Linked DNA regions of Homo sapiens. The protein of the gene in region 2 purifies or fractionates together with the protein of the main gene of each other region. This does not show direct contact. Each region holds a gene or a part of one and is shown on either strand. Other genes may lie near its edges.

Region 1 (3,297 bases), on a different chromosome or scaffold from region 2:
TGGTCCTCAGGTCCTTAAGTGGCCAAAACCAGGAGTAGGAAGGAGGCTGAACTTCAGCTTCCTAGCCACAAGCCACAGACAGGGACCGGCACCTGGAAGCTGCATGGTTCTTTGTAAATATTCCACAGCCAATTTCCTTTCAAAGACAGTGAGGCACACTACACAAAACTCTAAATTAGTCTACTTTTTTTTTGGTTTGTGTTTGAGACAGAGTTTTGCTCTTGTTGCCCAGGCTGGAGTGCAATGGCACGATCTTGGCTCACTGCAACCTCCGCCCCCCGGGTTCAAGTGATTCTCCTGCCTCAGCCTCCCGAGTAGCCGGGATTACAGATGCCTACCACCACGCCTGGCTAATTTTTGTATTTTTAGTAGACACGGGGTTTGCTATGTTGGTCAGGCTGGTCTCGAACTCCTGACCTCAGGTGATCCACCCACCTCCGCCTCCCAAAGTGTCGGGATTACAGGCGTGAGCCACCGCACCCAGCCTCAAATTAGTCCACTTTTAAGGACAGCAGCTGGCTTCAGTTTACTCATGTATTAGCTCTGCTATAGTAACAACCAACCCCTAAATCTCACTGCTTACTACAGCAAACATTGCTCTCTCATTGCTGTGACACTCAGTGGCTGCAGGCCAGCTGCTGTAGCTCGGCTCCATGGAACGGCTCCTCTGTGGGAAATGTGTTCTCACAGCAGAGGGAAGAGCACAGGCCAACCACACATGACTCTTCAGGCTTCTGTCAGACGCAGGACAGCTCATGCCTGTGCATATCCCTCTGCATTGGGAGCAGGGAAGTACACTCTCCCGGGGGGATGGGGTGGGGGCACTGCAAGAAGTCACACAGCTACAAGTCAGGATGGATAAACTCCTCTTAGGAATGGGGCAACAAACAGCTGCAGACAAAAATATACTCTGTAACAACCCAACATGCTAGAAGATTTTCCAGTTTAAAAGACACAAAATCCTAAATGTCAAAACTGCAGAGGAACTCAAGAGGCCACTGTCCAAAGTCTGTCACAGTCCTCCATATGGCAAAGATGAAGAAAATTGGCAATCTTTTTAGGGGTACCAAGGATCTGAGTTTGTACGGTCTTTATAAATGCAGAGCAAGATGTGGCTTTCCTGCCCCCATTTCACCTCAAGGCATCTTCAGCAACCCCACATGGCTTCCCTCTGTGCGCATGAAATAACTTGAGGCCAGGGTCTCTCAGCTTTAAAGCCTTGGAATCCTATGCATTGTTTGTTTGTGTGTAGATGTGCAGTTTGAGGGGTAGCTTCTCTAAGGTGTCAAACTCCACAAAAGTTCAGAATCATGTCACTGGATCCTGAGTCCATCTCCACAGACCAGGGTGCCGCTCAGGTCAGTTGCTGTGGTAACTGCAGCAGATGGTCCCTTTAGCGATGGAGTCCAAGGACATCATGGCCAAGACCCAGAGTTTTATATCAACTGAGGAAAGTGAAGACCAGCCAGAGAGGCTGCAGTTTAGGGAAGCCAGAGGCTCCTCCCCCACCACGATGCCAGGAAGGACTATCCCCAGGGTGACGGAAAGAAAGCACTGGACTCCAGCAGTATGTCCAGCTGATTCAGGTGTGCTAGGTTCCCAGCAGAGGAGGGTAAGGGAGGAGATCCAGGGGCCCTGGCTTAGTCATCGTATCTGGTACACCTTTCTCCCCCGGAGAAAATTCTTGCAAAAAGGAGAGGATCCTACACAGACCAAAAATGCTGGTGTCAGGGCTTTTACAAAGTACCTGCCGTGAACACAACAAAAGAGAGGGTGTTAATTTAATTACAATCTTAACCATCCATGCACCTTCCTAACAACATGCAAGGTGAGCCTCTGGATGGGAGTCAACATGAAAATGCAAGTTTAGCACAGTTATGTGGTTGTTCATAAATCTGGCAAATTAGCATGACATTCTCATCCTTACAACCTAGCCAGAACCTTTAGGCCAGTCCTCTGGCATCATGCATGTCTGTGGCTAAATATGAAATAAAAATATAAAGCATGGTTTTATTCATTCATTCAACATTCAGTGGTAAGCCAGGCCCTGTGCTGAAAACACAGAGATTAAAAAACCAACACCCACACACCATCATCTTTGTTCTCAAATTCAGTCCTGGAGGGGAGGGAGATGAGGAACCAATTAATGACAGCAAGGCACAACTGCAGAAGCATTTGTGAGGCGCAGCATTATCCCAAGGAGGCACGATTCCCTCTATGAGGAAGGGAATCAAAAAAGGCTTCCTGGAAGATGCCATGTCTGAACTTGGCTTTAATTTGGGGAAGGGGTGGTGATGGGGGTTGGGGAGCAAAAGCCAGGAGGTGCAAGTAACCAGAATGTTTGCTGTGGCTAGGGCACAAAGCAAAAGGAGTCAGGCAGGCTAGAGAGGCAGGGAGGGCTTTGGCCTCCCAGGGATAGGGGTGTTGTATTACTCAGTGGGCCTGCTTTGGGACAGAGGGCCTATTTCGTGGCTCCACCCAGTTTAGGGTCTGAAGTTGCCAGAAACCAGTCCTGGGTAGGCTCTTGCCTATGGTAATAATTTTAAAGGTAGTAACTTCCAACAGCATTTACATTTTCTGAGAAGCATGAAACGGGTTTCCTCCAAGCATCGGTCTGCTTTCTATTTAGATTTCTCCTCTGGGGTAGGGCAGAACTCAGGCCTTTAAAGAATTCTGGGTAATTTGCTAACAACTGAGAAAATGAGCAGCTAAAAATGTGTCCAAAAACTAGAAGAAGAGAGATTTGGGACCAGAGCAAAACACCACCAAAGGTATCAATCAGATCTGGAAAAACCTTTCCTTCCTGCCTACCAAGCCAAAGCATTAAGACTAGCTGGACACCCCTATCACATCACTCAACACTACACCAGCTCCCATCCAATCTACCTCCTAAACCTCTAATCCACCTCCTCCTACTTCAGGCCTCACCACTGAACAGTACACTTCAAATCTTTACATTACTCTGTAATTTTTTTGGGTAGTGGGAGGAGGGGGTCTCACTCTCACCTAGGCTGGAGTGCAGTGGTGTGATCATAGCTCACTGCAGCCTTGAAATGCTGGGCTCAAGCAATCTTCCTGCCTCAGCCTCCCAAATAGCGAGGACTACAGGTGCACAACACCATAAAAAAGATTTCTATAGAGACGGGATCTCGCTGTGTTTCTCAGGATGATCTCTAACTTCTGAGCTCAGGTGATCCTCATGCCTTAGCCTCCCAAAATGCTGGAATTATAGGTATGAGCCACTGTACCCGGCCTATTCTGTACATCTTTTAAAATCTTTTTAATTTTTAAAAATCA
Region 2 (3,500 bases):
CCTGAGTAGCTGGGACTACAGACGCATGCCAACACACACGGCTAATTTTTGTATTTTTAGTAGAGACAGGGTTTCACTGTGTTGGCCAGGCTGGTCTTGAACTCCTGACCTCGTGATCCGCCTGCGTCGGCCTCCCAAAGTGCTGGGATTACAGGCGTGAGCCACCGCACCCGGCCTATGGTGGCCACTTTTACCATGTTGGGGGATTCACGTCTGGAGCCATAAAGCCCCATTCTATGTTTTTCTCTTACCTCTATGTAAGCATATAAACTTGAACTTACCCTATTCCCCCAAGAGTCTAACTAGAGATATAAAGCTCTAAGTATTTCCCTATGTATTTGTCGATAACAAATCAATAAACAGCTGGAAACACCTGCCACTGGGGAGGTCTGATGGGAGTTATTAGGTGCTCCTGGTAACGTTTACATTTACAGTTCTTCTCAATGGATTTTTTTTTTGACAGACATCAGTCCCACCTTCCAGTAGTTTACAACAATATCTTTTTTTTTTTTTTTTTTTTTGAGATTGAGGCATGATCTTGGCTCACTGCAACCTCCACCTCCTGGGTTCCAGTGATTCTCCTGCCTCAGCCTCCCAAGTAGCTGGGACTACAGGTGCCCATGACCACGCCCGGCTAATTTTTGTTTTTAGTAGAGATGGGGTTTCACCATATTGGCCAGGCTGGTCTCAAACTCCTGACCTTGTGATCTGCCTGCCTCAGCCTCCCAAAGTGCTGGGATTACAGGCGTGAGCCACTGCACCTGGCCTACAACAATACCTTATCAGTTCTGCTTTCAGTTTCCTTTTCATGAACCATATACCTTCTCCCTGAAGAAGAAACCATATCTTATCATTTTCTGTCTCCCCAGATCTTAGCACAGTGCCCTACACATAATAGAAAGTTGGTGAGTGAATGAGTGAATAAATGAAATGAAACTATTTCCTTCTGGACACAGGTGAGCTGAGTCGTCAGCTGGAAGAAAAAGAAAGCATAGTATCCCAACTTTCCAGGAGCAAGCAAGCCTTTACCCAGCAAACAGAAGAGCTCAAGAGGCAGCTGGAGGAAGAGAACAAGGTACACCATTGAAGGAAGACTTCTTTGCCCTTATTTTTAAATATCACCTGTAGGAGGAAAAAATAAAAGGCAACTTCATTCAGAAGGTGGTGATAGAAGGGACACACTTGGATTGTATCATGCACCTGGCACTAAATATATCAGGTGCTCTTCTCTTTTTAACTTCTGCAGGCCAAGAACGCCCTGGCGCACGCCCTGCAGTCCTCCCGCCACGACTGTGACCTGCTGCGGGAACAGTATGAGGAGGAGCAGGAAGGCAAAGCTGAGCTGCAGAGGGCGCTGTCCAAGGCCAATAGTGAGGTTGCCCAGTGGAGAACCAAATACGAGACGGACGCCATCCAGCGCACAGAAGAGCTGGAGGAGGCCAAGTGCGCAGCTCTGTTTGCTTTTAGAAGAACTACTTAGGAATGAATTCGATGAATTTATTTTTATTACTAGGCGTTTCCCCATCTCATGTGTCTTTAAATGCGGTGCTGGGCCATTAGAGGGACCTGGCGTTAGCACATTTTATTAAAACAAACAGCTTTGATCTTGGTCAGACACAAGGCAAGTTATTGATCCCAGATTTTGAGTAGACAGGAAATTCTCCTGGGCGTATAAAAACACATGGGTGTCTGAATCACATAGATTAGTGATTCCAACTTGATGAATAGTGATGTTCAAGTGGATGGAAACTGAAATAACAGCTGCTTCTCTTTCATATTCTTTAAGGAAAAAACTTGCTCAGCGCCTTCAAGATTCCGAGGAACAGGTTGAGGCAGTGAATGCTAAATGTGCTTCACTGGAGAAGACCAAGCAGAGGCTGCAAGGAGAGGTGGAGGATCTGATGGTTGATGTTGAAAGAGCCAATTCCTTGGCCGCCGCTCTGGACAAGAAGCAGAGGAACTTTGACAAGGTGTGGGGTCCGCTGTGTGCTGGGTGAATGCCATGATGTAAGGGATTCCTAGCAGCCGTGGAAGGAGGAGAATGCATCCCGGACCTGACTCTGCCCTCACCAGCAGTGTGGCCTTGGGCAAGTCCCTGAACTTCACCGGGCTGTAGTTTCCTCATCTGCAAAACAGAATGGGAATGGGCTGGGGGTAGAGGTCCCTTTCAAATGTTGTCCGTGGAAACAAACCAATTTCTACAATGTCCGTGCAGTCCTAAGCATTTTTCCTTTCCGTACTACTGGTCTGTCTAAGCTGAGATCCTATTGGGAGGCTTTCTGGAAGCCCTTCTTTCAAGATGGCAGATAAAGTTGATTGGAACCAATGCTTTAATGAAATATTTAGAAGTACAGGGCCCTTTTTATATTAGGAAAAGGACAATTATGCCCAGCTAATTCCTTCTCAAAGGATCTATTTGCTTTTTCAAGATGGCAATTGTTCCTGACTCATTACCTTGAGTACATTTATGGAACAGAATCTTGATTAGCCCAATAATCGACAACAAGGAGCCAGGCAAGTGATGCCAAGTGTAGCCCTAACTCTGCATTTAATTTAGTTATTTAGTATTTTGTTAGAAACCTAGAGGAGAGCTCAGAAACGGAGAGAACTTCCGTCCGGTGTTTCAGGTGTTGGCAGAGTGGAAGACAAAGTGTGAGGAGAGCCAAGCAGAGCTGGAGGCATCCCTGAAGGAGTCCCGCTCCTTGAGCACTGAGCTCTTCAAACTGAAAAATGCCTACGAGGAAGCCTTAGATCAACTTGAAACTGTGAAACGGGAAAATAAGAACTTAGAGCGTAAGCTATTCGAAACCCTCTGAAACCTCCTCCTTTCATGCTCTATTGCTCGAGAGCATGCTGGCGTGGGTGTGGCTTCATCACTCAGTTTCCTGCACACATGTGTGTTAATGCACATGCAGAAAGTGTTCACCATCTGACGGGTTACGTTTTAGCCTCTCTCTGTACAATATCTTATCTCTAGGAAGCAGGAAACCTTAGGATTATAATAAACCAGGTAAAAAGCATTGAGTCAATGCTTTGCATGTCTGGAAACCCACGCAGAGGCGCTCATATGCAACTGAAACTTACTTCTTTACAGAGGAGATAGCAGATCTCACAGAACAAATTGCTGAAAATGGCAAAACCATCCATGAACTGGAGAAATCAAGAAAGCAGATTGAGCTGGAAAAGGCTGATATCCAGCTGGCTCTCGAGGAAGCAGAGGTGAGTGCTGGGAGGCAGGCTCAGGCGCAGATGCAGCCATGGTGAGCCACGGCCAGGGAGGCTGGCTGCTCCATGCTGTGTCTCCATTTTTGCCTTTGTCAAATCACAGTCCTAATGCCTGCTGCTTTCCCGTCACACAGCAAAACTGTGAGGCTGAATAATACCTGTGAATTATCTTAAATTTATTGGAGAAGACTGTCATATTAAATAGGCCTAAAGATGAGATTTTACAAAATATTACATGAATTAAAAATATCTAGAAAGTGCTTTATGCTCCTAAG

What was found. The genes of interacting proteins can lie anywhere in the genome.
Region 1: the proteins of MYH3 (region 2) and TTC4 purify together in Homo sapiens (co-immunoprecipitation; one large-scale study listed by IntAct). This does not show direct contact.

What each region holds. Positions count from the first base shown.
Region 1 is NC_000001.11:54,739,861-54,743,157, reverse strand, and holds the end of TTC4 (tetratricopeptide repeat protein 4), read right to left. Parts: intron 1,748-3,297; coding exon 1,645-1,747; 3' UTR 501-1,644; downstream 1-500.
Region 2 is NC_000017.11:10,633,310-10,636,809, reverse strand, and holds part of MYH3 (myosin-3), read left to right. Parts: intron 1-956; coding exon 957-1,075; intron 1,076-1,246; coding exon 1,247-1,443; intron 1,444-1,786; coding exon 1,787-1,970; exon of another isoform or gene 1,971-2,125; intron 2,126-2,627; coding exon 2,628-2,793; intron 2,794-3,094; coding exon 3,095-3,219; exon of another isoform or gene 3,220-3,394; intron 3,395-3,500. UniProt on the Homo sapiens protein: Muscle contraction.